2 separate regions of the Homo sapiens genome follow, and region 1 is linked to region 2. Evidence: fine-mapped expression QTL. A gene starts in region 2. The other region holds a variant in brackets. All regions are shown on one strand. Distances are from middle to middle.

Region 1 (16,727 bases), 43 kb before region 2:
ATCTCGGCTCACTGCAACCTCTGCCTCCCAGGTTCACGCGATTCTCCTGCTTCAGCCTCCCAAGTAACTGAGACTACAGGCATGCACCACCATGCCCAGCTACTTTTTGTATTTTTAGTAGAGACGGGGTTTTGCCATGTTGGCCAGGCTGGTCTCGAACTCCTTACCTCAGGTCATCCACCCGCCTCGGCCTCCCAAGTGCTAGGACTGCAGGTGTAAGCCACTGCACCTGGCCTGTGTTAGTCAGTTTTGCATTGCTGTGAAGGAATGTGTGAGGCTGGGTAATTTATAAAGAAAAGTTTATTTTGGTTTCTGGTTCTGCAGGTTGTGCAAGAAGCATGGTGCTGGCATCTGCTCCTGGTTGAGGCCTCAGGAAGCTTCCAGTCATGGCAGGAGGCAAAGAGGGAGCCGGCATGTGCAGAGATCACATGGAAAGAGAGGAAGGAAAAAAGAGAGGAGGAGATATGAACTAATAGAGCGAGTACTCACTCCACCAAGGGAATGGCACCAAGCCATACATACATGAGGGATCCGCCCCCATGAACCAACCACCTCTCACTAGGCCCACCTCCAACATCGGGGATCACATTTCAACATGAGATTTGGAGGGGACACACATCCAAACCACATCATGCCCAACCTTGAAATACAGTGAATCTCACTTTATTGCTTTTACTCTCAAGCAACCAAATCCTTTACCCTCTTTCCCACGTCCGCTATAATCTAGGGTCATGAGAACGCCTTATCTTCATTCCAGATCACAAGAGTGTCCCATTCCACTAAACCACAGGCACTCCCATGGCAGAAACATCCTCACTCTCAAAACTTCCTTAATATGAAGCACGGTTCTAGGCACAAAACAGGCACACAGAAAATACTTGTGTGGTTATTGATTGAGCAAAGAATTTTACAAACAGTAAAAGGGGTACTGTATGCCTGACAGCTCAAGGGTTGTTGTAAATGCAAACTTCATCTTTCTGCCTTTGGGGAAAGGAGTACTGATGCTGGTTTAACTCTGTTCCCTTTAAGAGTGTCTGGTTGAAGCTGAAACTCACACCATCAACTTCTGATAAAGCAACAGAAATTTGACTGGGTTAGGCCTGACTCCAAAGCAGCTTTTAAGATGGTTATGTTGCTGCCACTTTTCTCACACAAGGAGCTGGAAATTCTACCAAGCCTCTGATCTGACACCAGAGCCTAGTTCTAAACGTTCCCTGGGTCTGCCCCAATGGTATACACAAGCCCTGGGAAGAGGAAGAAACAGCTTATGATTGCTGTGTCTTCCCCGACGCTGGAAAGAATGGTGTTCCTTGATCCCAGTGCTTCCATGACCCTGATGAAAGCCTCAGCCCTGGATCCCAGAGTGATCGCCTAGAGCAAATGCTTGAGTGAGATTTCAGCTCTTCTCTTGCCAAGATGTGGCTTTTCAAGGCTGGGCTGCCAATGAAAATGTCAACAATGCTCAGATCAAGAGGAAAATGCTCATTTCACCCTCAGAGGGCATCCAACATTCCAGCAGATCAGTGGTGATCCAAGGTGCCCTTTGTTGATCAGGGCAGAGAATACATTTCCTTTCCCAAGACAGAGCAGTCCAGTGTGGTTAGTAAATGGGCCAGCACCAAAGAGGCTGCATGCAGAGTGGAAGCTGAGGCAGGTGATGCCCTCCTTCCTCCACAGAGAGGCTTAGATCCCTTAGAAGAGGCAACTGGTCTTGGGGACATATTCTGAGTCTCTCCTGAAGCAATGGAAATGGGATCCAGCTTTGGAATCTGATCCCCTCCCTTGCAAATGAAACTTGGTTCCAAGGAGCAACCAACTGAACAAATCCCAAATGCCAGACATTGAAACAATGGCAGAATTAGCTAGAGGAGAGCTAATGTCCCTATGAATCTAGCTAGCCCTAAGCCCAAGCCTCACAAGTCAAAATATAAATGAATTATCTAAAACTAAGAGACCTGATTGCTGAATCTTGATTAAGATGAGCATTCAAGATGAGGATACTGAATGTGTTGAAATAGCCAAGGGAGGGCTGGGCTTGTTTCAACTAAGGTGTCTACGTGCCTTATTAACATTACTAACAAAGGAGAAAAAAAGATGTTAAAAAGTAGCAATGATGCAATAACTGGCTTTGAGTGATTCTAGAAAAGGAGCAGGCATTTGCTTTGAAATGAACTCTCAGAATTAGCTTGTTCTTCCACAGGATCATAGACTCGTCTAGTTTTGTGTTTTCCAGACTGTGCTGTGAGGAGAACAAGCAATTCCTGAGAGATCTCAGGCTCCATCCTCCTACCCTGCCTGAGCTGAAGAAGCTCTTTGTGCCCCTTCTGAATATGATTGGGTTTCTGAGTAAGAAGTTGTTGGGAGAAGTCGTTCTGCTGCTTTGTATCGGATAGGACTCTCAGTTGTGAAAGACAAAGACCCTGATTAACACAAAATTCATTTAGGCAAAAGTAGTGTCACACATAAACTGAAAAGTTAAAAGCTGTGAGCTTCAAGCACAGCCAGATACAGTGGCTTCTTTGATGTCAGTGGGGCTGAGGGAGTCTCTGTTTCCTACCTTGCCTCCTTCTATGTCAGCTTTATTCAGGCAACCTTCCTTCCCATGCGGTGGCAAGATGACCATCCGGCGGGTTCAGGCTTCCAGCCGGTCATCTCAGAAGCCCAGTGGTTGTCCTTCCCGATAGCTCTCTATCAATCAGGATTAGGTTAAGCTGCCAAGTAAAAGAAAACTCAAAGTGACAACAGTTTAAACAAGCTAGAAGTTCATTCTGTCTTACATAAACAAAATCCCAAAGTAAGCAGTCCAGGACTGTGTAGTTCCTCCACAAACATACATACGCATGCATGTATCTTTATGATAGAATGAAGGAGAATAGTGCTACAATGAACATACGCATGCATGTATCTTTATGATAGAATGATTTATATTCCTCTGGGTATATACCCAGTAATGGGATTGTTTGGTCAAATAGTATTTCTGTTTCTAGATCTTTGAGGAATTGTCACAGTGTTTTCCACAATGGTTAATTAATGGTTAAATTAATTAATTTACATTCCCACCATCAGTGTAAAAGTGTTCCTATTTCTCTGCAACTTCACCAGCATCTGTTGTTTCTAGACTTTTTAATAGTTGCCATTCTGACTGGCATGAGATGGTATCTCACTGTGGTTTTGATTTGCATTTCTCTAATGATCAGTGATGTTGAGCTTTTTTTCATATGTTTTTTGGCTGCATGAATGTCTTCCTTTGAGAAGTGTCTGTTCATGTCTTTTATCCACTTCTTAAAGGAAAACCCCCGTCTCTTAAAAAGAAAAAAAAAATCCTTGGTCAAATGTAATCATATGCCCACACCTAGTTGTAAGGGAGGCTAGAAGTGTAATCTTTGTTCCTGGAAGATATAAACCCAGCTAAAAGTCAAGAGTTCTGTTACTAAGGGAGATGGAGAAAATGGATTTTGGAGGGAGACTAATAGCATCTCATCTGCCATGTTAAACTAATAGTTCCAACAAAAGTTTTCTGGGTTTTTTTGTTTGTTTGTTTTTGTTTTTGAGATGGAGTCTCACTCTGTTGCCCAGGCTGGAGTGCAGTGGCGTGATCTCTGCTCACTGCAACCTCCATCTCCTGGGTTCAAGTGATTCTCCTGCCTCAGTCTCCCAAGTAGCTGGGAATACAGGTGTGCGCCACCACACCTGGCTAATTTTTGTATTTTTAGTAGAGATGGGGTTTCACCATGTTGGTCATGCTGGTCTCAAACCCCTGACCTCAGGTGATCCACCTGCCTTGGCCTCCCAAAGTGCTGGGATTACAGGCGTGAGCCACCACACCTGGCCAAAAGTTCCAGAATTTCAGACTTTAATCATATGTCCATTCCTGAACCAATTCTTCTGGCCAGATAGAGGAAATACAAAGATTTATCAGGTCTGATTCTTCTGGCCATGCCTAATCCTAGACAGAAAGGATGCTGGGCAGATAGAAACAGCAGAACACTCTCACTCCAGTGTAATCTCTTAATGTTTTTATTTTTCAGCTGCAGAAACTGAGGTCCCAAAAGGTGAAATGACTTGCAATGGGTACATAGTGATTACTTCTGGGGCACAAGATCAAGACTCCACTTTATTGCTCTCCACTATCAGTCAAATATATTTCATAGAAATGTGAAATGAAAGGTCTGTAATTTACACCATATTTGGCTGAACACAAGGATTTCCAATAAATTACTCCTAATTATTTTAAACCTTTGTGAAAATTACACCTAACTTTTTAAGCTCGTGCACAGTTACATAAATAAAGAGAAAAATAAGATGCCTTGCTTTCTTCCTTTGATGAATCCTAATTAGCTTATACCTGTGTTTTCAACCACCGTGAGCAGAAGTGTCAACATCTTGGAACACTCTCTTCCTCCTTCACCCCTCTATCCCTCCTTTCATGAAGCTGCTTGCCAAGCACTGGTAGACAAAGGTGAGAGAGGGTCCTTTCCCTCAAAGGGCTTACATTCTTAAAGGAAAAACAAACAGGTAAACAGACAACGCCCTGGTAGGAGGCCAGGCACTATGGCTCATGCCTGTAATCCTAGCACTTTGGGAGGCCAAGGCAGGTGGATCACTTGAACCCAGGAGTTCAAGACCAGCCTGGGCAACATGGTGAAATCCCATCACTACAAAAAAAAATTAGCTGGGTGCAGTGGCACACCTGTAATCCCAGCTACTCAGGAGGCTGAGGTGGGAGGACTGCTTGAGCCTGGGGAGGTCAAGGCTGCAGTGAGCCAAGATCACACCACTGCATTCCAGCATGGGTAACAGAATGAGACCCTGTCTCAAAAAATAAATAAAATAAAACAAGGTAAATAGGTTTGCATGCTTAGGACGTCAAGAACAGAGTGGGGGATCTCACTGTCAAAGCTTCACAGGGAGGCAATACTTGAAAAGCCAGCGCAGGCAGGAAAGAGCTTGGGCATAGAGATCAGAATATGCAAACACACATATGCATAGGAGGAAACTACACGGAGTTCAGTATGGCTGGAGCTAGACTGGGAAGGGCATGGAGGAAGATAGGGCAATGAAGAGAACAACATGTCAGATCTGGAAGGTCTTTGTATACCTTGCAAGGCGATAGCTGGACAGTACCATTGCTTACCTAGACCAGTACCATTGCTTACCTAGACCAGTACCATTGCTTACCTAGACCTGAGGAGACAGAATGGCTTCAATTAGTTATCAACCTAAAATTAAAGTTAAAATAAATGCTAAGTGTCAGGGGCAGTGGCTCATGCCTGTAATCCCAGCACTTTGGGAGGCTGAGACAGGAGGATCACTTGAGGTCAGGAGTTCAAGACCAGCCTGGCCAACATGTGAAACTCCGTCTCTACTACAAATACAAAAATTAGCCAGGCATGGTGGCACATGCCTGTAATCCCAGCTACCTGGGTGGCTGAGGCAGAATTGCTAGAACCCATGAGGTGGAGGCTGCAGTGAGCCAAGATTGCACCACTGCACTCCAGCCTGGGCGACAGAGTGAGACTCCATCTCAAAAAATAGTACATAAATAAATAAATGAATAAATAAATGCTAAGTTCCCAGGCAAGTTCCAAAGCAAAGGAATCCTGTCAATTTATTCTGTGATTGTCTTCCCTGAAGTCTGGTTTTGCCAAAAGCACTTGGGGGTGTGGGGGAGAGGGAAGATGGAGGAAGAAAAGTCAAGTTGATCCTCATTATTCACAGATTATATGTTTGCAAATTCTCCTACTCACTAAAATTTCCTTGTACTCCGCAAGTCAACGCTCATATATTGGTGTTCATGTTCATTCAAGGAAACCTGCACAACAGTGAGAAATTCAAGCTGCCCAATGCCCACATTCCCAGGTGTTGAATAAGACAGCATTCTGCCTTCTTGTTTCAGCTCTTACTCTGTAAATAAATGCTCTTTTTGAAGTCATTCTAGTGCCACGTTTTCACATTTTTGTGCATTTTTTTGGTGATTTCACTGTTGCCCCCAAGTGTAGGGCTGAAGTACTTTCTAACACTACTAAATGCAAGAAAACTGTGATTTGCCTTATGGAGAAAATACATGTATTAGATAAGCTTTGATCACGCATGAGTTCCATGTTAATATTCAATGGTCATTAAACAATTACATATTAAATAAGGCAACTTTAAACAGAAACACATATAAAACAAAAGTTACATACTGATTGGTTGATGAAAACGCTGCGACCAGAAGCTCGTAGGAACTTAACCCTGTATTTCTTCCAGGAGCAGTGGTTCAGTGTTCACTAATTCAGTGTCCACTGTGACTTAATAGAGCATAACTACTTCAAATAACAAGAACTATATATCAAGTGCCATTTTACTCTTTGATGTGTTTGATTTTGAAAGAAAAGTTATTCAATAAAATTAATATAAGGAAAGATTGCATGGGTTTTTTAAGTTGTCTTTAAACATGCAGCCTGAATCTGGATTCGAGGTTCATGGAAGGTGCTACATTTTGGGGAAAGTGGAGGAAGGCCTAAAAGGTTCTGTTCCTCTAAAAATATACCTCTCAGAGTTCATGACCAGCCTGGACAACATAACAAGCCCCTGTATCTACAAAAAAGTTTTTTTAAAAATTAGCCAGGCATGGTGGTGCACACCTGTAGTCCTAGCTACTCCCAAGTCTGAGGTGGGAGAATCACTTGAGCCCAGGAGTTCGAGGTTACACTGAGCTATGATTGTACCACTGCACTCTAGCCTGGATGACAGAGTGAGACCTTGTCTCTAAAGGTAAAAAAATAAATAAACAAATATATAAACCTCTCAGTTCCTATCCCACCTATCCTGACTTCTTTCTGTCTACCTTGAGGAAAGGAAAATAAACAAGTTCCCAGAAAAAGCATCAGCAAACTTCTAAATGAATATAACCAACTCCTCTCAGGAGATGGAACAGGCTCAGTGATCACGTGTCTTGGGTTTCCTGGCATGCTCCTGGTTTCACATATTCTGTGCCATTTCTGCTGTGAGCTTACTTGTATCAGACCATGTGTCCTGACTTGGAATCCAAAAATACAGAGATGCAGTCTTTAACCACTTCTATGCACAACAACCTCCAAGTCCCTGGAATGACATGGTGCCTGTCTTACCTCCCAAACCTATGCAGGCCAAATCCTAGGTCCCCCACCCCCATCCCATGCAGGTCAAGTCCCAGCCTCCCCCCATCTCATGCAGGTCAAGCCCCAGTCCTCCCCCAACCCAGACACAAAGAAACACACTGAGTAACTGTCACCTCCCCATTCATAGCTGATGGTGCTCCCAGCTTGTCCCCATAACCCACCCACATGTGCCCACACCACAGGACACCACGGGTCTCCCTCCACTGTGCCAGAGAGGAACACAAAGCAGCAGAGACTGACGCTGAACCCGAGCTCTCACCTGGACCCCCCGACAGCCTCTGCACCAACCTTACTCAGCCTTCCACATCCAGCCTTGTGACAAAAGGCACATGCAGAAACTCTGCCTTGACAACCTTGCCAGTGGGTCATCCCAGTTCAGGTAGAGCTGCCAGGGGTGCCAGACTGAAAGGGCAGACAGCAGGAGTGAAGTGGACAGAGGCAGAAAGGAAGGGGACTGGCACCTGTCGAGCACTTGGCATCGGGCCAGGCGCTGTGTGGCACTTGATGTATCAGATGTCACTTAATCCCTGCCTGAGGATAATCCTCACTGCACACAGAAGGAAACTGAAACTTAAAAGAGTGAATAACTCACCCAGGTCACGGCTATTAAATCCAGAAGAAGAGTCAAACCCCACGTTCACTCGATGCCAATCTCAAGTGATTTCCACCTCATCAGGTCACTTCTGTTTGCTTCCACAGAAAAGTCAGGACCAGGAACTTTGTGAGAATTCAGCAACAGGGATTATGAAAGTGCTTTAAGAATGAAGTTTGCACAAACACAAAAGGTTATTATTAAAAGAAACCCCAAGGGATCGCCCACATTTTCTCAGTGTCCCAGAATCTGGTTGTATCAAATGCTGCTGCCTACAGGGGAAGACTGGGCTTGACTGTGCTTTTGGTGTTCCAGGAATTCAACTTCTGGGTGTAACTCTATTTAGAGGCAGAATGTGTGAGAAGCCCCTGACATCCACACCTGCGCTCGTCATCCTTGCTTAGTACAGGGGCACAGGACCTTCAAACGGAAGCCTTGATCTTACTGGGTCTCCAATTTCATTCTGACCCCTGGGTGCCCAGCCAGCAAGGACCAAGACCTCCTGGTCTTGGTGCCTGGCACCTGGTTCTGGTGCAAGCCCTGGAATCTGTGCTCCTCTCAGTTAGCAAGCCTTTTCCTAACCCTCCCAGAGTGCACACGACAAACTTCAGCCTGGGTTTTCTGCTTTGGGCTCCAGTTCTCCTCACTGATTGAATCTTTTCAATTAAAAATCTCAGAATTTAGCTAAGTATATGAAACCGATGAGTGGAGCCAAGGACCCTCCAAGAGCAGCCTGCCCCCTTGTGAACTGTCTGAAAGATAAATGGAGGAGTCTCTTCTGGAATGAAGAGTAATCGTCAGTGTGGACAGCACCATGCCTCTAAACTAAGACCCCACTCCTCAAGCTTTAGAATGCAGTCATTCGGATTAGGGTTCGGAGCTCCACCATCCACTAGCTGTGTGACCGGGGCAACTTGTTTAATCTTGAGAAATATCATTTTTCTCCTCTGAGAAACTGGAATCATCACCTCTGCCTGACAATACTGTTGGATGGATTATGTGAAATCATGAATATAAAACATGTGGTTCAATGTCCGCACACATAGAAGGTCCTCAATAAATAGAAGTTTAGATAGGTAGGTAGGTAGGTAGGTAGGCAGGTAGGTAGATAGATAAAGAGAGAGATTAGAGATAGGGTCTCACTCTGTCACCCAGGCTGGAGTGCAGTGGCACCATCCATAGCTCACTGCAGCCTTGAACTCCTGGGCTCAAGTGATCCTCCTGCCTCAGCCTCCCCAGTGACTGAAACCACAGGTGAATGCCATGACACCTGGCTAATTTTAAAATTTTCTGTAGAGACATAGTCTTGCTATGCTGCCCAGGCTGGTCTCGAACTCCTGAGTTCAAGCGATCCCCCTATCTCAGCCTCTCTAATTATTGGAATTACAGGCGTGAGCCATTGTGCCCAGCCCAAACAGCAGACATTGATTTAAATGACAGGAGAATGAAGACGAATC[G/A]TATTCTCTTGACCACTGCCTGCATGAAGATGTCTCTGACTCCCCCGATGGGAAAAACCATGGCCCCTCCCTTCTGCCTTCCTCAGCACATTGTCAGGTCCTCATTTGTGTAATTTTCATGTCCTGACTTGTATTTGAGCTATCTAAATAATCACATAATAACAACACTTTCACTTGTTGAACTCCTATTTATATGTGTATACATTACTTCTCATTATCTCCTATTCAACTGAGGAAACAGATCAGAGAAGTCAAGTAACTTGCCTCACACACAAAGCTCCTAAGCGGTAGACCTCAACCTGGAACTCAAGTATTCTGATCCCAAAGCCCATAGTTTTCCCATGAGCTCTGCTGTTTCTTTTCTTTCCTGTTAGAGTGTGAGTTCCTGGACAGGTCCAGTGGCTCATGCCTGTAATCCCAGCACTCTGGGAGGTCAAGGTGGGTAGATCACCTGAGGTCAGGAGTTCAAGACCAGCCTGTCCAAGATGGTGAAACCCCATCTCTACTAAAAATACCAAAATTAGCTGGGTGTGATGGCACACCTGTAATGCCAACTACTCAGGAGGCTGGGGCAGGAGAATCACTTGAACCTAGGAGGCAGAGGCTGTAGTGAGCCAAGATCACGTCACTGCACTCCAGCCTATGCAACAGAGCAAGACTCTGTTTAAAAAAAAAAAAAAAAAAAAAAAAAGAACCTGAGTTCCTTAAGGATAAGGTATGTGTTCCTTGTTTTGTATCTCAAAACCAGTGTAAGCTGGGATTTTTTAATACCTTACTTTCACTGCACTTTTTTGATGCTCTTCCAAGCATTATAAATACATCTATTTATGTAGATTCCAGTTTCTGACCTATATCATTTTCTTGCTCTCTAAAAAACTTCTTTTAACAGTTTTTTTTTTTTTTTTTTGAGACGGAGTCTTGCTTTGTCACCAAGGCTGGAGTGCAGTGGCGCGACATCAGCTCACTGCAACCTCCATCTCCCAGGTTCAGATGGTTCTCCTGCCTCAGTCTCCCAAGTAGCTGGGATTACAGGCGCATGCCACTGTGCCTGGCTAATTTTTGCATTTTTAGTAGAGACGGGGTCATGTTGGCCAGGCTGGTCTCGAACTCCTGACCTCAAGTGATCCGCCTGCCAAGGCCTCCCAAATTGCTGGGATTACAGGCGTGAGCGACCACGCCCGGCCATCTTTTAACATTTTTTCCAAGGTAGAGCCACAGTAAAAAAATTCCCTGGATTTTTTTTTTTTTTTTTTTGGTCTGAGAAAGTTATTATTTCTTTTTTACTCTTGAAGGATAATTTTGCAGGATTCTAGGTGCAGAATTCTAGGTTAGTAGAGTTTTTTCTCTCAACACTTTAAATATTTTATTACACTCTCTTCTTGCTTGCATGGAGGAGAAATCAGATGTAATTCTTATCTTTGTTTCTCTCTAGGTAAAATGTCTTCTCTCTGGCTTTTTCAGGATTTTTTTCTTTATCTTTGATTTTTTGTAGTTTGAATATAATAATGTGCCTAGGTGTAGGGATTTTTTGGATTTATCCTGCTGGTGTTTTCAGAAATTCCTGGATCTGACATTAATATGGAGAAATTATCAGTTATTATTGCTTCAAATACAGTTATGCATTGCTTAACAATAGGGATGCATTCTGAGATATGCACTGTTTGATGATTTCGTCATTGTGTGAATATCATCGAGTGTACTTGTACAAATCTAGATGGAATGTCCTACTACACATCTAGGCTACAGAGCATGGCATATTGCTCCTAGGCTACAAACCTGTACGGCATGTTACATTACTGAATTCTGTAGGCAACTGGAACACAATGGTATTTGTGAATCTAAACATATCTAAACATAGAGGTTGGGCGAGGTGGCTCACGCCTGTAATCCCAGCACTTTGGGAGGCCAATGCAGGCAGATCACTTGAGGTCAGGAGTTTGAGATCAGCCTGGCCAACATGGTGAAAACTCGTCTTTACTAAAAATACAAAAATTAGCTGGGTGTGGTGGCAGGCACCTGTAATTCCAGCTACACGGGAGGCTGATGCAGGAGAATCACATGAACCCAGGAGGTTGCAGTGGAGCCAAGATCATGCCACTAGGCCAAGATCTTGCCTGGGCGACAGAGCAAGACTCCATCTCAAAAAAATAAATAAATAAACAAACATATCCAAACATAGAAAAGGTAATACATTGCACTACAACACTATGACAGCTACCACATCACAAGCAATAGGAGTTTTTTGGCTCCATTAAAATCTTACAGGACCACCATCTTACATGAGGTCTCTCATTGACCAAAATATCAATGTATTGATTCCAGTTTCCGACCTGTATCATTGTCTTGCTCTCTAAAAAACATCTTTTAACATTTTTTTTTTTTTTGAGAGGCTTGCTTTGTCACCCAGGCTGGAGTGCAGTGGCGCGATATCGGCTCACTGCAACCTCCATCTCCCAGGTTCAAACGATTCTCCTGCCTCAGCCTCCCAAGTAGCTGGGATTACAGGCGCCCACCACCACATCCGGCTAATTTTTGCATTTTTAGTAGAAATGGGGTTTCACCATGTTGGCCAGGCTGGTCTCAAACCCCTGACATCTTCTTCTCTTCTACTTTTGGTATCCCATTATACATATGTTATGCTTCTTGTAGTTGTCCCACAGTTCTTGAATACTTTGTTCTATTTCCTTCTCTTTGCTTTTCAATTGAAGAGGTTTATATAAAGATATCCTCAAGCTCAGAGATTCTTTCCTTAGCCGTGTCCAGTCTACTAATGTGCCCACCAAAGGCATTCTTCATTTCTCTTAGAGTGTTTTTTTGTTTTGATTTTAGAGACAGTGTCTTGCTCTGTTGCTAAGGCTGGAGTGGAGTGTCACAATCATAGCTCATTACAGCCTCGACCTCCTGGGTTCAAGCAGTCCTCCCACCTCAGCCTCTCAAGTAGCTAGGACTACAGAAACACACCACCACATCTGGCTTTTTTTTTTTTTTTAACTTTTTGTAGAGACAGGGTCTCACTATATGCTCAGGCTCATCTTGAACACCTAGCCTCAAGCAGTCCTCCTGCCTCGGCCTCCCAAAATGCTGGGATTATAGTGCTTCTGATTTCTAGCATTTCTTATGGTTCTTTCTTAGAATTTCCATTTCTCTGCTTTCATTTCCCATCTTTTGTTGAATGCTATCTACTTTATCCATTAGAGCCTTTATGCATATGAATCATAGCTGTTTTAAATTCCCAGTCTGATAATTCCAACATCCCTGCCATGTCTGAATCCGGTTCTGATGCTTGCTCCATCTCTTCAAATGTGTTTTCTGCCTTTTAATATGCCTTATAATGTTTTGTTTAGTAACATGGGAGTGAGGCGTCCGTGTGTCTTAGGTAACCCCCAGCAGGTTTCCATGAATATCAGACCCTTCACATCCTCTCTACTCTCTATTCCTGCCTACCTGGCCCAGGTCTTCCCGCAGTGATTGGCTCTGAGCTGGCTCTTACCCAGCATAGCAGATGTAATGCTCCCTCTAGCCCATATCCCTGGAGTAGGGTAAGATGGATCTTCTTGCTCAGATGTTTGGGTTAGCAAAGGCACCCCTAAAGGAGATGGATGGCCCCGCCATGGAATGTGTCCAGAGCCCTGGATGTTGTCCAGGTGCCTGGGGAGCTAAGCCATTAGTTCCACTGTCTGACTTCAGTCTCTCCCTGGTGCCGGGAGAGATTGATTGAGCCCATGCCCTCGGGATGGGGGTGGCAGAGTGGGAGTGGAGAGGGAGGAGGAGCTGCAGTAAGTCAGACAGATGGGGTGTCACAGGATTGGCAACTTGCCTTTCCCAAGAGGGAATGTGGTGGGGTCGGGGAGGGAGCCCAAGGAGAAGGAAGCTTCAGCCCTGTTGACCCTGTCTCCAGCAATTACCGGAGGGGCCGTGATCCCTCTGATACCTGCACAGGGAACAGATGCAGTTGTGGCCAGCATGCTAGGTCACTTTCTTCTGCCAGTGCACTATGGGCCCTAAATGGATCCCAGATGCTCTGCTGCAAAAGGGGGCTTTCTTCCAGCATCCCAGCCTATCTTGAGACAAAGAGAATGAAGAATGGGGATGGGGATATGCTGGGGGGATTCCCATTTCTCTGATGCAATCTAGAAAAACAAGCCAAAGTTATCCAAACATTACCCAATGGCAACAACACACATTGGGGACTACTAGGGGGGCGGGGGGTGGGGGCCAGGGCTAAAAAGTTTCCTATTGGGTACCGTGCTTACTACCTGAGTGATGAGATCAGTGGTACCGCAAACCTCAGCATCATGCATATATCCATGTAACAAATCTGCATGTGTATCCCCGAGTATAAAATAAAAGCTGATTTTTTTTAAGTTATCAAAGAAAGTCCAGGAGGCACATGTAGTGCAAAATAATGTTAGTGCACGGGGTCAAAGTACTGGCACTCAGTAAATCAGTGGCTACCTAACTTAGCATTTCCTACAAAGAGCTAGATTAGCAAGTCTCAACCAAGAAAGGGACTTTTCTTTTAATTCTGGAAAGTAGGAGGTAGCTTGAAAACACTATCCTCCCTCCCTCCCATGCCCAATGGCAGAGGATAACCCTGTTCAGTGTTACAGAAGGGGAAACCCTTTACAAATGATTTAGCAACTCTAACCTTAAGGAGCTCAGCCTCATTAGAGAGATCACTTTCCCACCCTAAATCATAACCATGGAAGGTAGAAAAACCCCAGAGATTCAGTCTCCTTGTTTTAGATAAGAAACCTGAAGCCCAGAGAAAGAACGAGAGTTGCTGGAAAGTCCAGCTTTGCTTATGGGAAGGATTACAGGTTTAATATAAAACAGATGAAAACCTAAATCTGAATCTGAACTGGTCCCCTCAACAGAGTGTGTTTGCATGTAAGTGTGCAAGTGCATGCCCATCTGTGTGTCTTGTGTAGCACTGTAGTTCTGAGTCAGTGTACTTTGACACAGTGGTGTGTGGCTCACCTGCAAACCATAGCAAGCAATTAGTGATCAATATGTAAAATGCATTTCTTCGACATACCATTACAAAATATGTGTTGGCTAGAACATGGAGCTGAGAGGGTCCTGTAACATGGCATGGATATAACCTGCAGTTACATGCATGAGGGTCTGAAGTGAATGCACCACAAAAGAGCTTTATCTCATGAGTAATTCAACCAGCACGATGGCGCAGGAAGCAGTTCTGTTCCAACAGCATCATGATACCCAAAGATGGCCAAAAGAATAAGGCAATAAGAGTGAATTTGAAAGTGGGTCACAGGCATGAAAAACCTAAGCCCACTTCCTAATTGATAGAGAAAGTTCAAGATATGGCCGGGTGCGGTGGCTCATGCCTATAATCCCAGTACTTTGGGAGGCCGAGGTAAGCAGATCACTTGAAGGTCAGGAGTTCAAGACCAGCCTGACCAACATGGTGAAACCCCGTATCTAACAGAAATACAAAAAAAAAATTTAGCTGGGTGTGGTCTTGGTGTGGTCTTGGGCGCCTGTAATCCCAGCTACTCAGGAGACTGAGGTGGGAGAATCGCTTGAACCTGGGAGGCAGAGGTTGCAGCGAGCCAAGATTGCACCATTGCACTCCAGCCTGGGCAACAAAGTGAGACTTTGTCTCAAAAAAAAAAAAAAAAAAAGACAGATGGAACCACAAGGCTACATCCCAAAGTGATGAGCTATGGAGCTATGGCCAGGGCAGAGGCTGGAATGGAGGAGACCCCTAGGACAGCCCTTAGCTATGCTGTGGGGCCTCTTTGGACCTCTCATTTTGGCCGTCCTCATCGCCAGTTCTCTAGAGCACAGCAAGCTGCCGTCTGTCCCTGCAGGCTCCCTCTGAGGCTGATCTCCTCCATAATCCAACCCTGCTTGCCCTCGTTGTCAATCGGAAAAAGTTCATGCATGGATTTACACTGTGTATTGGATTACTTGTATTTCAAGTTTGTAATCTAAAGAAATAAATTTATGACCTGGCAAGGTGGCTTTCACCTGTCATTCCAGTGCTATGGGAGGCTGATGTGGGAGGATCCTGGAGGCCAGGAGTTGGACACCAGCCTGGGAAACATAGCAAGACCCCATCTCTACAAAAAATTTTTAAAAATTAGCCAGGCATGGTGGCATACATGGTGGTGTACAGCTGCAGTCCCAGCTATTTGGGAGGCTGAGACAGAAGAATCACTTGAGCCCAGGAATTTGAGGCTGCAGTGAGCTATGATCGTGCCACTGCACTCCAGCCTGGGTGACAGAGTGAGATCATGTCAAGAAAAAGAAGATAGAAAGAGATAAAGATATAAAGAAAGAGAAAGAAAGGGGAGGAGAGAAAAAAAAGACGAAAAGAAAGAAGAAAAGAAAGAAGAAAGAAGGAATTTCTAATACCGACACATAATACTGGAACTTCAGCCCTTAAGTCATCACACAGGAGGTCACTGTCTCTCTCCGTGAGTGCCAGCATATCCTCAGCTCTAGAGCAACTATGATGTCCTGTGTTTTTGAAACTGCTTCCTGCACTCCCTGTATTGTTCGCTTACTTGTGGCCTGCGTTTATGCCCTTAGTGTCTGTTTAAACTGGAGCCATATTCCAAAATCTGCCATTCTCTCTTTTTCTAAAAAATAATAACCTTATTGAGATATAATTCACATAGCATACAATTCACTAATTTGAAGTTTACCATTCCATTGTTTTTAGTAAACTCAGAGTTGTGCAACCATCACCACAATCAAATTTAGAACATTTGCATCACCCCCAAAAGAAACTCCTCATGCATTAGCAGTCATTCCCTCATCCTAGGCAACCACCAATCTACTTTCTGTCTGTCAATGTTCCTATTCCAGACATTTCATACAATGGACTCATACAATATGTGCTCCTCTGTGACTGACTTCTTTCCAGCATGATGTTTTTGTTTTTGTTTTTGTTTGTTTTTGCTTTTGTTTTGAGACAGAGTTTCGCTCTTGTTGCCCAGGCTGGAGTGCAATGGCACGATCTCGGCCCACCACAACCTCCACCTCCCAGATTGAAGTGATTTTCCTGCCTCAGCCTCCCAAGTAGCTGGGATTAGAGTCGTGCACCGCCATGCCTGGCTAATTTTTTATTTTTAGTAGAGACAGGATTTCTCCATGTCAGTCAGGCTGGTCTCAAACTCCTGACCTCAGGTGATCTGCCCACTTCAGCCTCCCAAAGTGCTGAGATTATAGGCGTGAGCCACCGTACCCGGCCTGATGTTTTCTTTTTTTTCTTTTTTTTCTTTTTTTTTCCCTGAGACGGAGTGTCGCTCTGTCGCCCAGGCTGGAGTACAATGGTGCAATCTTGGCTCACTGCAACCTCTGCCTCCCAGACTCAAGCAATTCTCCTGCCTCAGCCTCCTAAGCAGCTGGGATTACAGGCATGTGCCACCACACCCAGCTAATTTTTGTATTTTTAGTAGAGACAGGGTTTCACCATGTTGCCCAGGTGGGTCTCGAACTCCTGACCTCAGGTGATCCAACCGCCTCAGCCTCCCAAAATGCTGGGATTACAGGTGTGAGCCA
Region 2 (16,727 bases):
ATAAGTAAATAAATAAATTACCTCTTACCTCTCTCACACAAAGACTTTATCATATTGTCTTAAGATGGAATGTTAAATATATTCTTTTAAACTGGAGAGGAAATGAAAACAAGCCATATAGAAAACAAACTAATCAAATTGTTATAATTTGATTATAAACCAGCCTTGTATAGAAAATGTTATGATCCTCCCAAATTTATTTGTTTTCTGTCGGTATAAGCAAGACCTTAACTTTTAACTTCAGAGCACTCGCTCCATTTCTCTGGAGTCTGGTTTTCCCGGATGGCTATTCCCAACTTTTCACTTGAATACGCTCTTTAAAACTGGATTCTGATCCTTTCCATTATTTCAGGTTGACATATCAAAGAATGAAAAACATATTACAAACGATATGGATACCACTTGGTTCAGCACCACTCAGCCATAAAAGGTGTGATGGGTACAGAGGTTGAGTTGAACACGGAGTGCTTTCTGCAAAGCAGGATTCAATAACATTTGTGAATGGATAGTGTGGAAAGCAGAGAGGCTTCTAAAACATACTAAGCAGGGTTCTGAGTCTCCAGCCACAAATGTGCCTTTCTCAAAACAACATCCTCTACACTCCCATCTTCTCTTTTGTCTTTTTTGGGATCCTTTACTCCAGTCATTCCTCATCTTGATTCTTTTCTAGCCTCAAGTTGTCCAACTCATTCCCTCTATAAATGTATCTCCAGTAACAAATGTCAAAAGGACAGGAATTTTGCTCTCTCAAAAGGAAAGATTAAAGTATGCATCCCTTTTTCAACAATGCTATCCCACAGTGGGTGGAGGGGATTTTACAGACAGCCTCATTTCCCATTTTTCCAATGCCCTAGAATGCATATTACTATAAAGCAACCGTAGAAATTAATCCTTTGTGTTAGTGAGTATTTGTCCTTTATGGGAAAATTAGACATAACATGCAGTGCACATGGAAGAGCCCACAGGGGGAATTGTGAAGTTTTCATCCCTAGAGGTCATAAAGATAGTTGAAATAGTGCCAGATTCTAAGAAGGACACCTGGGCCAGATGTTTACCAGGCCCCTCCAACTCAAGGGAGGTACAATTCTAAGGAGGGAGGTCTTTTTTTTCTTTTCTTTTCTTTTTTTTTTTTTTTTTTTTTTGAGACCGAGTTCCACTCTTGTTGCCCAGGCTGGAGTGTAGTGGCGCGATCTCAGCTCACTGCAACTTCCACCTTCTGGTTTCAAGTGATTCTCCTGCCTCAGCCTCCCGAGTAGCTGGGATTACAGGGGCATGCCACTACCTCGGGCTAATTTTTGTATTTTTAGTAGAGACGAGGTTTCACCATGTTGGCCAGGCTGGTCTCCGACTCCTGACTTCGTGATCTGCTTGCCTCGGCCCCCCAAAGTGCTGGGATTACAGGCGTGAGCCACCGCACCCAGCCTGTTTTTCTTTTTACTTTTGTCAAAACTGCCGTCAAATCAGGTTCCACAGAAGATATGGACAGTTAATCATCTATCCCAGATAATGATGGTGTGTTCCCACTAGATGCCCTCATATTTCTTCCATCCACAACTAGCTATATGATTTTTGAGGCCCAGTGCAAAATTAAAGTGCAGACTCCCATGTTCAGAAAGTATTACGAATTTCAAGATGATGACAGCAGGACATTAAGCCAAGAAGAGAGCTCTTCTCAGTGCAGATCCCTATGCAACTATACAAGTCACACACCCGTGACACCACCCTTGCTTCCAGCTCTGCAATTCTACACTGTGCTGGTGAAAAGAGTCTGAAATCTCCAAACCCTCTTATCCACCAGCCACTTCAGATATGAGAGGTCTTCAATAGGATCCTAAACAATAAAGGCAAAGGACCCTTATTAATGACATCATTCAATCTGCTCTTCTCCCTCACAATGAAATAAACAAAAATGTAAGCAAGAGCAGCTCTTTCATGGAGAGAGCATTCAGTACAACTGTCTGGCATCTGTTCAGCCTGTTTCCTGAAACTGGGACACACGTTGTTTTAGATGGTGAAATTTAAATGGAAGGAACAGATGCTGTCAATTCAGGTATGCCAATAATGTTCTCTCAAAATGCAATAAAGACATACAAGCTTATAAAACGGAAGCTGACTTGAAATTACCAGCAAATGCATGAAAACAAAGAGACAATGATCCTTGGAGTTCTGCCCATTGTACCAGTGCATGGTAGACACTAGAACTGAAAACGAGGAAAATGGATTTGATCTGCCCCCACCCCAGTCATGCCTCAAAGCTTTAGAAGAAAACAACTACTACAAAAAAAACGATGTTAGACGAAACGGGGATGGCTTCGGTGAGCAACGTGAGCATGGCCAAGGAGGACAGTTTAAAATTTCTTTAGTATAAGGACGTCTTTCAATCCAATTGAGATCTTTATGAAGGACCTGGGAGGAAGTGGTTGGACACAAATAGAACAAAGCCCAGGAGAGATCGTAGCTGAAGAGAAGACGCCATCTGCAGCGTGGGAAGCTGTTTGTAAGCAGGGCCGAAAATGATCCAGGATGGGTCAAAAGTTGAACATGAGTTGGTGATACAGAATGGGACCCCGCATTGAAAAGCTAGCTTTGTTCCAATAGAGAAAAAAAAACAGAGTTGAAAATGGAGGGACAAAAGGATTTCACTGATAATATTCAGCACAGGTTAACGCTCTTATCAGAGTATCTAGTTTGAAACACCAGAAGGTTCTGAGAGTCATACAAAAAGACAGAAACTTTGGAATAGAGATCCTACCATCGAAGATAAAGGAAGCTGGTTCATTCACCTTGGAGAAGAAACGATAGAGGGGTGTGTAAAAGGATATAAGATTTTTATCACCATCTCTCTTCTCTATTAAAGATCTCTCATCCCTACTCCCACCTGACCCTCACCCAAGCAGACTTCAGATCCTACTTATTTCAGGTATGAATACTTATCATTCCCTGGACAGAGAGGCTGGAATGCCCAATTATCTCTCCTTCTGTTAAAACCCCTCCCCTTCCCCAAAGTTTTTTAACCTGTTATAATCTCCCTCCTCCCACCCTCCTGGCCACCCATAAGAATGTGAATTTCCACAGGACATAAATAATCCACACTTTTTTTATCCTTTCATCACCAGCCCTTATGAGTGTCGACAAATATTTGTTGAATGAATTCATTTTCAAAGCATTTCATGAGAATCTATTATGGACAGAGGAATAAAATAGATAATATGTAGGCTTCAAAGAAGCTAAACATAGACAAGGGACTCAAAATTCAAAAAGGAAGAATGAATTGTCAATACTGTAGACTAATAGCTTGACTTCAGCTCCTTAAAATATCAGAGGATTGTTGAAAACATAGAAAGGAATAAAATAATAGTGTAGGGCTAGTGAGCTCATAGATTATAGATCATATCTGTATTATATAGTATTATCATTGTTTGGCCAGGGTTACTAGATTAATAGATATAGTAGAGATTATATGAGGTAATGCATATAAACCGCTCAACCTAGTTCCTTAACACTAATAGCCCAATGAATAGTAGCTGCTGCTATCATGATGTTAATGTTAGCAAATCATTTGACTATGTCACTAATGATGTAATAATTTAAAAAAAAAACAGAGTACCATACAGTATTTGTTATGTGCCAAACACATTCTAAGTGTTTTACATACAATATCACATTGACACCCTCTACAAGGTAGATGTACTAGATTTAATAGTGTCCCCCAAAATCCATGTCAGTCGGGAACCCCAGATCCTTATTTGCAAATAGGGTCTTTACAGATGTAATCAGGTTAAGATGGTCAGACAGGATTAGGTGGGCCCTAAAGCCAATGAATAGTGCTCTTTATAAGGAGAGAAATATTTCAAGACACAGAGAAGATACAGGGAAGAAGGCCATGGGAAGATGGAGGCAGAAATTGCAGTTATGCTGTCATAAGCCAAGGAATTCCAAGGATTGCTGGTAACTGCCAGAAGCTATTTGGTTGGTACAAAAGTAATTGCTGTTTTACTTTTAATGGCAAAACTAGAATCTAGACACATGAGTGTGTTTAGGGATGAGGGAAGACGATAACAATACAGCTCATCGTCCTTTGATTCCTCTTTCACCTGGGATCGATCCTCTTCCCAAACATGAAGAGGGTTTTCCTTGGGTTATATTTGCCCTCAAATTTCCTCATTCAAAAATAATCTGTTTGCTGGGTGCAGTGGCTCACGCCTGTAATCCCAGCACTTTGGGAGGCCGAGGCGGGTGGATCACGAGGTCAGGAGTTCAAGACCAGCCTAGACAACACGGTGAAACCCCGTCTCTACGCAAAAAAATACAAAAATTAGCTGGGTGTGGTGGCACGCACCTGTAATTCCAGCTACTCGGGAGGCTGAGGCAGGAGAATGGCTTGAACCCAGGAGGCGGAGGTTGTGGTGAGCCGAGATCGTGCCACTGAACTCCAGCCTGGGCGACAGAGTGAGATCCATCTCAAAAAATAATAATAATAGTCTGTTTTACCACCTAGTCTCAGTGGCCAAGGGCTGCAGGAAAATACTCCAAATATACAATGTATGAAAATTGTTTTCTTCGTTCACTCCATTAGACTGAAATTTTGAGGGTAGAGACTGTTTTACCTGTTTAAGGGTGTTCTCAACCCCTAGTAACAAATATGTAGAAAACCAGCTCCTAGGAGATCTTACTGAGTTAGTAAGGAAGCATCAACTTCGGAGACAAACACTAGTAGACATTTAATTCAAAACAGGATCAGATCATGAAACGGAATAGAAAGTCCAAAACAGGCAGACAGAGGGACAGACAGACAGACACACACACACACACACACACCACTGATTTTCTTTTTCTTTTTTTTTTTTTTTTTTTTTTTGAGACAGAGTCTCGCTCTTTAGCCCAGGCCGGAGTGCAGTGGCACTATCTCCGCTCACTGCAAGCTCCGCCTCCCGAGTTCACCCCATTCTCCTGCCTCAGCCTCTCGAGTAGCTGGGACTTATAGGCGCCCGCCACGGCGCCCGGCTCATTTTTTGTATTTTTAGTAGACACGGGGTTTCACCGTGTTAGCCAGAATGATCTCGATCTCCTGACCTCGTGATCCGCCCGCCTCGGCCTCTCAAAGTGCTGGGATTACAGGCGTGAGCCACCGCGCCCGGCCCCCACTGATTTTCAACAGAGATACAAAGGCAATTCAGTGAAGAAATGAGAGTCTTTTCAACAAATGGTACGTAAACAACTGAATAACAACTGCATAATCATACGGGGGGAGGGAAGAGTTTCACTCTATACCTATGGGAGGCAGAAATGCCCTCCCCAAGAGGTCCACACCCTAATCCCCTCAAACCCCTAACGTGTTAAGAGAGTAAAAAGACAAATCACAGACTGTGAAAAATGCATGCAAATCACATATCTGATAAAGGATTTTTCTCCAGAATGTATAAAGAACTCAAAACTCAAAAACAGCCCGGCCAAGTTCTCACGCAAGTATAAAGGCCTCAGGAAAACATCTTTAAACATACAAAAATCCAAGAATTAAAGTGCCTTAAAAATTTAAAACTGACCTTAAGCCCAGCCAATAAAGATGTAAATCAAAACAAAATAAAACAAAAAACCCCTCAACAACAGGAAAATAAAATACAAACAAAAAAATGGGCAAAAGTTTTAAATAGACACTTCACCAGAGAAGATACATGGATGGCAAATAAGTACAGGAAAATATGTTCAAAATAATTAGTCATGGAAAAATGAAAATTATAGCTGCAGAAGATATTACTACCCAAGTCTTGGCAAAGATGTGGAGCAACTGGAACTCTGGTGGGAATGCAAAATGGTGTCACCACTTTGGAAAACAGTTTGTCAGTCTGCCAAAAAGTTAAACGTGTTTTTACCGTACAATCTAGCCATTCTACTCCTAGGTATGTACCCAAGAGAAATGAAAGCATTAAGGTCTACACACCTATGCAAAGACTTGCAAATGAATGTCCATAGCAGCTTTATTTGTAACATCCCAAAACTGGAAGCAATCCAAATGTCCATCAACAGATGAATGGATAAACAAACTGTGGGATGGCCATACAATGGAATAGCTATCCAGCATCAAAAATAAATGAATTATTGATAACACAACAACAGATGGACTTCAAAATAGTCTATGTGAAAGAAGCCAGGCAAAAAAAGGGGGTACACACTATATGATTCAATTTATATAAAATTCAAGGAAATGAAACTAATGTTGAGTGACAGAAGGTGGATCAGTGCCTGGGAAATGGGGTCTGGGAGAGGCAGGAGGGAGAGATTACACAGGAGCTGGAGGAACCTTTTCAGGGCAATGGAGCTTTACTATCTTGATTGTGACAGTGGTTTATGGGTGTATTCATATGTCCAAAGTTATCAAATCCACTGCTTTAAATGTGTGGTTTATTGTATGCCATTTATATCTCGAAAAAGCTGTTTTTAAAATACAGTAAGAGAATTTTTCATATTTAAAAGGCAGGATATTTAAACTATATTAAATATATAAAAGACAGTGGTACTAACAGGTTGTATTAGCAGGAGACAAGGGTAAGGTGGGGTTTCTTTGGCTGCCTTGCAAAGAAATGCTGAGTCAAGTAAGGGCCAGTGGGCAACGAGGGCGGAACCACTTGTCCCCTTGGTCACCTGAGGGATGTGGATGGGAGCTGGGTGGAAATGGGGGGTGAGAGGAACGCCGCCCCCAAAGAAGAGTCGGGGCAGGGGCGCCCAACGCTGGGGCCCAGGCAGGTTCTTCGTCCTCACTTCCTGACCCTTTCTCAAGAGTCTAGGGACCAAATGGATCCATCCTTGGAGCCTGCTTTCTACTTCTGAACACAATGAGCAGTTTGTGTTTGAGGGTTTGGGGAGGGGGTGTTGTTTTTTCTTTATGTTTTGTTTTTTGTTTTGTGTATGAGTTGGGTGGCATAACCCACACGTAAGCTGCGACGTCCAATCAAGAACGAAAATGACCCCTCACAATCAGTGATCGGGAACCACCTGCCACAATCACTAGGGAAGTGACACAGCCGGGAAACTCCGCCCCTCACACCCCCGCGCGCTCGCGCCGGCCGCAGCCCCACAGCTCGCCCCGGCCGCAGCCCCACAGCTCGCCCCGCCTCTCTCCTTCCGGAAACAATCCCCGCGCGGGCGGAAGGCGGGGTCGGCCCTGGCCCCGCCCACATCATTTCCCTTCCTCGGCCCAGCCCCACAGCGCGCAGCTTCGGCAGGGTGGCTTTACGGCCGGAGGAGAGGGTGGGTCCCAGACCTGAGGTAGGAGGCCGAGCTGAGGGGCGGGGAAGAGGCTTTTTGCGGCAGGACGTAAGTGACGGCGAAGGCGGTGCGACAGCAGCTGGAGGGCAGAGGAGGCGGGTTTGTGTTTCCCGGGCCGAACCGGGTTGTGGGGGGCGCGGGGCCTGGGCCAGGCGGCAGCTAAGGCCCGCGGTGACAGCATGGGTGAAGGGGAGCGGGGCAGAGGAGGCCTTGGGCTGTTTTCGGCGGCGGGTGGGGGCGAGGGGCTGGCGGGTCAGAGTCCCGGGTCCAGGCCGGGGCTCTGACTCGCGGTTGGTGTTCCCCCGACCCCGCAGCGCGGGGTGTCCTGTCCTCGCCATGAGGCCGCAGCAGGCGCCGGTGTCCGGAAAGGTGTTCATTCAGCGAGACTACAGCAGTGGCACACGCTGCCAGTTCCAGACCAAGTTCCCTGCGGAGCTGGAGAACCGGGTACGCAACCTGGCTCCCCACGCCTGCTCTGGCGAGGGAGAGAGACTCACCGGGGACGGGAAGGGTGTGGGCGACAACCGGGCCTTTGAGGGTCCCGCAGTTCTGGGGAGGTCCAGGCACAGAAGGGGCCTTGGCCAAACGTGTAAGAAGAGAGCCACTAAGCAAGACAGGTGTTTGGAGCAGGAAGAATAATATAGGCCGATCGCCGGGGTTGACGACCTTATGGAACTTTGTTGCCCGGTGCCGGGAATCTGGATCCAGCAGTGTTCCCCTGCTGCACTCCCCCAAATCCCCACCCCGGGTTATTGTCGGCAGCGATGAGGAGCCAATTCCTGAGGCTCCAGGTCGTCTCAGTCACCAGGTTGTAAACTATATCCTCCTACCTCTCCGCGCAAGATAAATCATCATCATTCTCGTGACTGGTGTTTGCTGCCTCTGTGCTGGCCGCACTGTTTGGCTGAAAGGGTTTATTAGGTGCATGGCCAGGCGGTGCGTTCAGGCTTTCTTGGAACCTTAAAGACGTCGGGCGTTAGATAGGCCTGGACAGGAAAATGTCTCAGAACAAGGCCTTAAACTTGTCACATTCACTGGGAGCCACCTGTTTTGTCTTGCATATCAAAATGGTCATCAGGATATAGGTCCTTTGGGCAACATTGCAGGCAAAAATGGAAGAATGGGATTTGCTTCCCCTTCAGACCTAGCAAAACTTTAAAAAAAAAAAAAAAATCATTGTATCTTGTTGTAGAGGTAATGGAGTGTGTGCGTGCCTGCCTGTGTTTTTGTGTGCCCACATATGTACATTCAACCAAAGATTCTTTTGGTCTTGACCCATGTTATGTAGATTGTGTTTCCCGTTCAGGGATCAATTTCTGGTTAGCTGGAAGCAGGTTTTGTGGCTCTCTCCTCTGTGACAGGGAGGACGAGGGCCTGAGAGGTGATTAGGCATTCCTTGGGTGTGGGACTGAGAGATGCTGGTCATGGGATAAGTGGGTGTGGATGAGTCTGTGTAGAGAAATGTGTAGCAGTTATTTACAGTCAGTTTGCAGTGAGGTGGGTTGCACTGCCCGATTTCCATGGTTGGGAAATCAACAATGATCCATTATAGTTTCCTTCAGTTTGACATAACCATGGGCAGCTTCATGGCCCAAATATGTTTCTTGAATTGCAAATGGATCAAATATGCCTTTAAAAGATGGTGAGGTGACTTGTTTCTGAAATGCCATTTAAATGCTGCAGTATGTTGTCAACTATGTTATGAGTTAACTGAGCGTGACAATAGGTGGAACTATCTACAGTGGTTTGAAGAGGTAGAAATTCAGCAAGTGGCCAGTTGGGTAGAGCTACTGAATGTTGTTTTAAAATAATTTAACATCACAATTGATGTGTTTTACATGTTAAGATTGACATGGAATCTGGCTGGGCCCGGTGGCTCACGCCTGTAATCCCAGCACTCTGGGAGGCCGTGGCGGGTGCATCACTTGAGGTCGGGAATTCAAGACCAGCTTGGCCAACATGGTGAAACCCCATCTCTACTAAAAATACAAAAATTAGTCAGGCATGGTGGCGGGCACCTGTAATCCCCGCTACTCAGGAGGCTGAAGTAGAAGAATTTCTTGAACCTGGGAGGCGGAGGTTGCAGTGAGCCGAGATCATGCCATTGTACTCCAGCCTGGGCGACAGAGCAAGACTCTTGTCTCAAAAAATAAATCAAATAAAAAGATATACATGGAATCAATCAAATGTTTTATTTTTAAGCCTCTTACGGAAACTATGACATACAATTTATGTACTTCAAAATCAGAATATAAAGTATTCTTTTTTTACCACAATTATTTGGACATTAAAGATTCCTTTGCTTTAAGGTTTTAAAGCAACACTTACACCTCATATATTTGAGCTAAATGTGTATACACAGAATCAGACATTAGCCTTCCACTCTGTGTGTGGCAGAGCCTTTATTTTGTAATCTAAGTGCAAAAGCACAATGTAGTTACTGTGCTCCACTGATTCTTGTCAGGAAATTGATGTTTCTAAATTCTGGAGTCCTTTTACCTCTTTGACTCTGTATAGCCCAGAACTGCTTGTGGTACTGAGTACTATATGGAATGTTACATGGCACTCTTCAATTGTGCCTTTGAATTTCTTTTTTCTTTTTAAATGTTTGGGTTAAAACACTAGCTTATGCTTTAAACCACTAGAAAAGCTTTGATTGTCTGTGTATGTGTGTTGAGATTAAATTTAAATTACAGGTTTAAACTTTCCTTGCTTTGATGAAAAATTGAAAGGTTTCTGTTTCTCTACTACTTACCCTAGAAATTTTACTGATTGCTCTGCTATTGGAGCTGATTTTCCTTTTGTGAGAACATCACACTTGGCAACATAATAGAGAAAGTGACTAATATGCAAGTGTTTTGTATTATTTTAAAGCATTTTTTAAAAATACACACACATTTGTGCCCTTTAATTTGGGAGTAGGATAGGTTCTGTCTGTTAACAAGTTCATTTTCTCTGCTGCCTTTTAGAATGTAATACTTTGATGCTTAAGCGATTTGTTGCCAGAACAATTCCTTAAAGGAAACTTTATTCTCATTAGCCTTAAAATACAGATATCTTAGTTACCCTTGGTCTGGGTAGAAGAATGAGTGAACTGTAATTGAGGCATTTTTTCCCTTTAAAAATATGTCTCCCCATCTGGTTAGTAATTACCTTTGACCTGCCACCCTTGATACGTGATCACTGCATGCTTCACCATGCTTTCTACTGTGTAGTTCACAGTAATTCTGGGAAAATAAGCCTGATTTCTCTTTCCATTCTGATTTTTGATGTTTGTGGGTCCAAATTTTATTTGGCTGTGACTTCTCATATATCTAAATTTTGATAGAGCTCCTGTATCAGTGTCCAGGAACCTAAGGGAGAACACTGGCCACTGTTATTCATAGCCTAAAGGTAGTAAGATACAAATGCCAACATTTGTTCTCTTGAGCCCTTTCTTGTGAAGTTTGTCGTTTGCCTTTATTGATGCCTTCTGTGATTTTTACCCTTTATTTCCCTTTTTTAAAATAACCTTTCAAAAACTTGTTGGCATTTACTTTTCTTTAACCATTTATCCTTTCTTTTTCTTTTTTTATTAACCTTTTTTTGTTTGTTTGTTTAACTGACGTATGATTTACCTCTAACCTATAGGGCATTGTAATCTCGGAATAACGCATAAGAATTAAGTGTTTCTGGCTGGGCATGGTGGTTTGCACCCAAGTAATCCCAGCTGCTCTGGGGGTTGAGGTAGGAGTATCCCTTGGGGCCAGGAGTTCAAGACCAGTCTGGGCAACATAGCGATACTCTGTCACTAAACTTAAAAAATAATAATAATTAGGGTTTCCGGGATAAACAGTAATTCTGATATGAAAGAAATAAGATGTTTCTGGGTTGAATCCCATGGTTTTGAATTGTATTGTAAAGAAATATAAATAATTCAATGACTTATAACATAGGCACATCAAATGTGATTGGAATTATTTAGACTTTTGTAGACTTATCGGTGGACAAACTGAAGGCATTAACGTAGGCATAATTAGGTGAACGTAACAGCTTACCATTTTTGTTTGCTGAGCTCTCCTCAGTCTGTTTTCGTGAATGAGAACTCACAGTTTCCCAGATGACCAGCCTTGACACCACATCTACAAGGGGTAGCTCAGTGAAGAAACACTGCCCCTGCGTTTAAAGGCCGTCTTGACCCACCTAGCCTTTGTCCAAATCTCTAATATTCCTGGAAATTTAAAGTAACTCCTTTTGAAAAATGGGTAGAGCCAACACCACTTTAAAGTTTGCATTAAATTCATGCATGCCACTAGCCCATTGACTCCTCACATTTTCCACACAACGGACAAAACAATGACTACAACTGCTTCTAACTTAAAGAGTTGTCATAGCTTAAGGATGGTCATGAATTGTTTTACACTTTAAAAGATTATGTTCTTGAGGCCAGGTGCAGGTGGCTCTTTGGGAGGCCAGGGGGGTGGATCACATGAGGCTAGGAGCCTGAGACCAGCCTGGCAACATGGCAAAACCTCGTCTCTACTAAAAATACAAAAATTAGTAGGGAATGGTGGTGCACGCCTGTAATCCCAGCTACTCGGGAGGCTGAGACACGAGAATCACTTGATCCTGGGACCAGAGGTTACAGTGAGCCAAGATTGCGCCACTGCACTCCAGCCAGGGTGACAGAGTGAGACTCTGTCTCAAAAAAAAAAAAAAAAAAAAAAAAGATTACATTCTTGGGAATAGTGAATAGTAGGGCTCATACTGTATGTTGAGGGTTTTTTTTCTTTCTTTCTTTTTTTGAGACAGGGTCTCACTCTGTCACCCAGACTGGAGTGCAGTGGTGAGATCTCAGTTCACTGCAACCTCCACTTCCCAGGCTCCAGCAATCCTCCCACCTCAGCCTCCTGAGTAGCTAGGACTATAGGCATGCACCACCACGCCTGGCTAATTTTTGCATTTTTAGTAGAGACAGAGTTTCACCATGTTGCCCAGGCTGGTCTCAAACTCCTGAGCTCAAGTGATCCACCCAGCTCAACTTCCCAAGTGCTGGGATTACAGGAATGAGCCACCACGCCAGCCTGATTTTTTTTTTTCTGAGTCGGTTTCTATTATAAAGAAAGATTTAATAGGTTCACAGAGACAGGAAAGGAGAAAAAAAAAAAGCCAAACAAAAAAGTCTTTTAAATAAGGACTTCATAAAAGAGAGAATTCATACGTAAGTAGTTATTAATTTTAGAAATAAGGGAATCCTTATGCGAGAGAAGGCCTAGAGTGCAGACAGATAAGAATGGCAGTATTGGATGATTGCTCTCCTAATGGGCCTTGAAAGTCCTGGGATGAAGTAGCAAAATTTGAAATCTGTTATACAAAGTACTATTAGAAGACAGTAAAGTAATATTGGAAGAATAAAGTAAAAGCAGATGATTGAGTGAAACAATGGATGACAGTACAGGTTCTTTCTTATGTGAAATATGTGGAACCAGAAGTATTTCAGTTTTTGGGGTTTTTTTAGATTTTGAAATATTTGTTTATACTAATGAGATATCTTGGGAATGGGATCCAAGTCTAAACACGAAATTCATTATGTTTTATATCCACCTTATACATATAACCTGAAGGTAATTTTATACAATATTTTAAATGACTTTATGAGACAAAGTGTGTGTACACTGAACCATCTTATCACCCTTTGTGAGCACGCTTGCATGGGAGAATCTGGCTGTGCATGGAAAAGATACATGGCAGCTGATGGGGGCTGGAAGGGTCTTTTTCTCTTGGGGACACTGAATAAACTATGTGTTGTGCGCCTGCATTTTGACTGTGACCCCTCACATGAGGTCGGGTTTGGAATTTCCCACTTGTGGTATCATGTCAGTGCTCAAAAGTTTCAGATTTTGGAGCCTTTCTGACTTCAGAATTTAAGATCAGGGATGCTCAACCTGTGGTAGTATTAGTGTAAATTTAAGATAATGGTGTCACCAAATAGAAAGAGGTAATAAGAATGACTTAATGTGAAAAATTGTTTATTAGCTTGAGATTTTACCTTAACAAATTTTACCTTATTTAGTAACAAGATAATTGCTTCAAAAGAGATAGGCTGAGTAAACAGAATATAGAACCTACGCCTTTTGATCCTTCTGCTAAAATGCCATTTTTTTTTTTTTTGCCTAGTAAATTCCAGTCTTTAGTTACTCAATTTAAGATTACCTGCCCTTCCCAGATAAAGGGAATTTCTCCTTGCTTTTGTGTCCCCACTAGGCTTTATATTTGCCTATATGATAGTACCCTGTCAGTTTATTGCTTTTTTTTTTTTTTTTTTTTTGAGACGGAGTCTCGCTCTGTCACCCAGGCTGGAGTGCAGTGGCGCAGTCTCGGCTCACTGCAAGCTCCACCTCCCGGGTTCACGCCATTCTCCTGCCTCAGCCTCCCCAGTAGCTGGGGCTATAGGCACCCGCCACCATGCCCGGCTAATTTTTTTTGGTATTTTTAGTAGAGACGGGGTTTCACCATGTTAGCCAGGATGGTCTCCATCTCCTGACCTCGTGATCCGCCCACCTCAGCCTCCCAAAGTGCTGGGATTACAGGCATGAGCCACCGCACCTGGCCAGCTTACTGCATTTTTATGTTTACATTGCCTGTTCTGCTTGCATAATTAAACTCTTAAGGATTGAGACAGTGCTTTATCTTGAGATTTTTCATAGTATCTGATAGTAGGCGCTCAGTAAGTGTGAAACTAAATGAATGGAAAGAGGAATAGAGCCTAAAGTTACTTGAAATTTAGTAGAAAGAATAAAGAAGTACCTTATTGAGCCTTGAAGCTATCCAGTATTTATAAGAGGGATAAAATTAAACAAATTAAGCAGTTTTGGTAACTTAGGCCCAGATTTAGTCACCAAAAAAATTGTCAACTAAGAATGGTGAGAAAACAAGATAAATTAATGATAGCATGCATTAGTTGATTTTTTTTTTCCAAAACTTAATTTTTAAATATTTTCTTCTCTACAGATTGATAGGCAGCAGTTTGAAGAAACAGTTCGAACTCTAAATAACCTTTATGCAGAAGCAGAGAAGCTCGGCGGCCAGTCATATCTCGAAGGTTGTTTGGCTTGTTTAACAGCATATACCATCTTCCTATGCATGGAAACTCATTATGAGAAGGTAATGCTACATTTGTTTTCACAAAAATCTCTTAAAATCATGAAGAAGGCAAGTTTATTACACATTGATGCTTACATGGTGATAGTTGCCGTAAAATATTTAGGGGCATTTATCATTCAAATTGTGTTGTTCCTGTGTACAGAGGCACATAGTCCTGAGTCTTTCAAAACAGGTTGCAGTTGGTATGTCCACTTGCAGATGATGTGTCAATGTTCAGACTGGCCTACACTTAAGAAGAATGTAGAAAATCTATATGTTCTCTTCCTACTCAGCTTTCTGGGAATGTTTTTACTTTATTTCCCTAAATTTCACTCTCTTCTCCCACCTGAGTTCTTACTTTCTCTTTCCAGCTGCCTACTAGCTCCCGAATTGCTGATTTCTCAACTTAAGATGACCAGAAGTCAAACCTCCCACCTCCCCATTTTGTCAATAGCACCCCTGTCTTTTCAGTACCATCTTTGGGCATGAGGGATGAAGAAGAGGGAAAAATTAATCTGTTTTCAAAGACTGAAGTATCTTTCATTTTCCCAGTCATTAACTTTTTGTGATTTCCTCTGCCACTATCCTGGGTTATGCCCTTATTCTGTCTCTCCTAGACTATTGAAATAGTCTGACTTGTCTCATTTCTTCCCTCCTTTTGCTTTTCTAAACTATCTGCTGTTGTTTTTATAAAGCGCAGATTTACTTCCCCTACTACTTCTGCCAAGTCGGAGACCTTCCCTGGATTCCCATGTTTTACCACTGAGTAAAATTCAAGGCCCTGCTCAAGTTGACCTCAGCTTACCTTTCCAGCGCTACCTCCCATTCCTTCCTTCACTTTCTCCCTCAGCCAAACTCCATCCCTCACTGGTCAGCAAACATACCCACTGTGGTTCTCCTCCACCTGGAATGCTATCTTCCCAGGTTCAAATCCCACCAGTCCCTTAGGTCTCACTTCCATCTAACTTGTTCTCTGTTTTAGTCAGAATTCTTTCTCTTCTCTTGTGTCCCTACAACATTTTATTTGTATCTGTTTTCTGGCACTTGCCTCACTCTTCTTTGGAATGTAGCAGTTTATTTTCTTGTCTTATTTGCCTTTCAAGTATGTACTTTTCTTGAGGACAATGCCTTAACCATTTTGTATCCCTCTTCATGCCTAACACCATGCTTTGGGTATATCAGGCACTCATTGAATGTATGTTAAATAAATGACTGTAAATTAATCATGGTAAGCCCCTGGTATATCACTAAATTCTGACAGTGCTTAGAAAACGAAATGCTATAAGAATATATTATGACCCATCTGATAGAAATGTCTTACACTCCATGTAGTGGAGAGTGCATATAGTTGCAGCTAAAGTTTTTGGAGCTGTTGGCTGAAAATGCTGTTGTATTCTTCATTACCATCCTGTTCCATCTCATATAAACAGGTATATTTAAGTATAGTTATTTATATCCTTCCCCATGTTGAAACAGGAAAAGTTCTCTTGTCCCCCTCGCAGGGCGTGTGATGGGGTGTGGCTTGCTTCTTCAGTACCCTGCTGCTCAAACCTCTAGGAGAGCATACAGATGGGCAGGCTGTGGGGCTCCAACCCCACAGCAGTGTCTAGGGGTGAATGTTTTACAGCTCCTGAAGCCCCAGTGGGCATATGTTACAGGGTGCTCTTTTAGTTTAGCCATCCATAGGCGGCTTGTGTTAGCTCAATTAGACCCCTGCCTTATCACAAGGGCAGAGGGCTTTCTGTATCCCAGAGTTCTTGCCTTGGTGTACCAGAAGAATCGGATCACATGTGGGCTTGGAGAATGAGTGCAAGGTTTTGTTGAGTGGAAGTAGCTCTCAGCAGATGGGGGAGCCAGAAGGGAGATAGTTTTCCCCTGGAGTCAGGCCGCTCGATGACCGAACTCTTCTCCAACCACCCTGGCCAAACTCCACCTGATTCTGCCAATTGATGGCCTACCGGTGTGCCAGTGTGCTCCTACGCCAGTGTGTTCCTCTTGACATCCAGCCACCCTGTGTGTTCCTCCACTAATGTGCACCTCTTGACATCCAGCCACCTGTTTGTCTGCCTGCTGGGGTCTCAGGGCTTTTATAGGCACAGGATAGGGGTGTGGCAGGCCAGGGTGGAAATGCAGCATTTGGGCAGGAAAACAAAAATGTCTGTCTTCACTACTGGGCACAGGCCTGGAGGTGGAGCGCTAGCCAGGGACCATGCCCTTCTCTACCCAGCACTTCCCTGCCTGCTTCTGTATGATTTAAAGGGACCGTGCTCTTCCCTTCCATATCAATACACAGAGAAGCTTTCATTCCTGTTTAAACTTTCAAAATCAGAAGTTATCAAGGC

What was found.
Region 1: its variant is fine-mapped to the expression of GOLGA7 in whole blood (INTERVAL, PIP 0.98).

What each region holds. Positions count from the first base shown.
Region 1 is chr8:41,440,040-41,456,766 of GRCh38, forward strand. It overlaps LOC105379391 (a long non-coding RNA gene), which reads left to right. Exons shown (of 3, transcript XR_949705.2): 3 at 325-380. It overlaps LOC124901938 (a long non-coding RNA gene), which reads right to left and starts at 2,901. Exons shown (of 2, transcript XR_007060897.1): 1 at 2,558-2,901; 2 at 283-377. The variant G/A (reference allele first, on the strand shown) is at 9,192.
Region 2 is chr8:41,483,256-41,499,982 of GRCh38, forward strand. GOLGA7 (golgin A7) reads left to right here and starts at 7,327. Exons shown (of 5, transcript NM_001002296.2): 1 at 7,327-7,710; 2 at 14,254-14,406. The coding sequence starts at 7,600. RefSeq lists a silencer at 6,958-7,217 and enhancers at 7,268-7,397, 7,688-7,797, 7,848-7,957.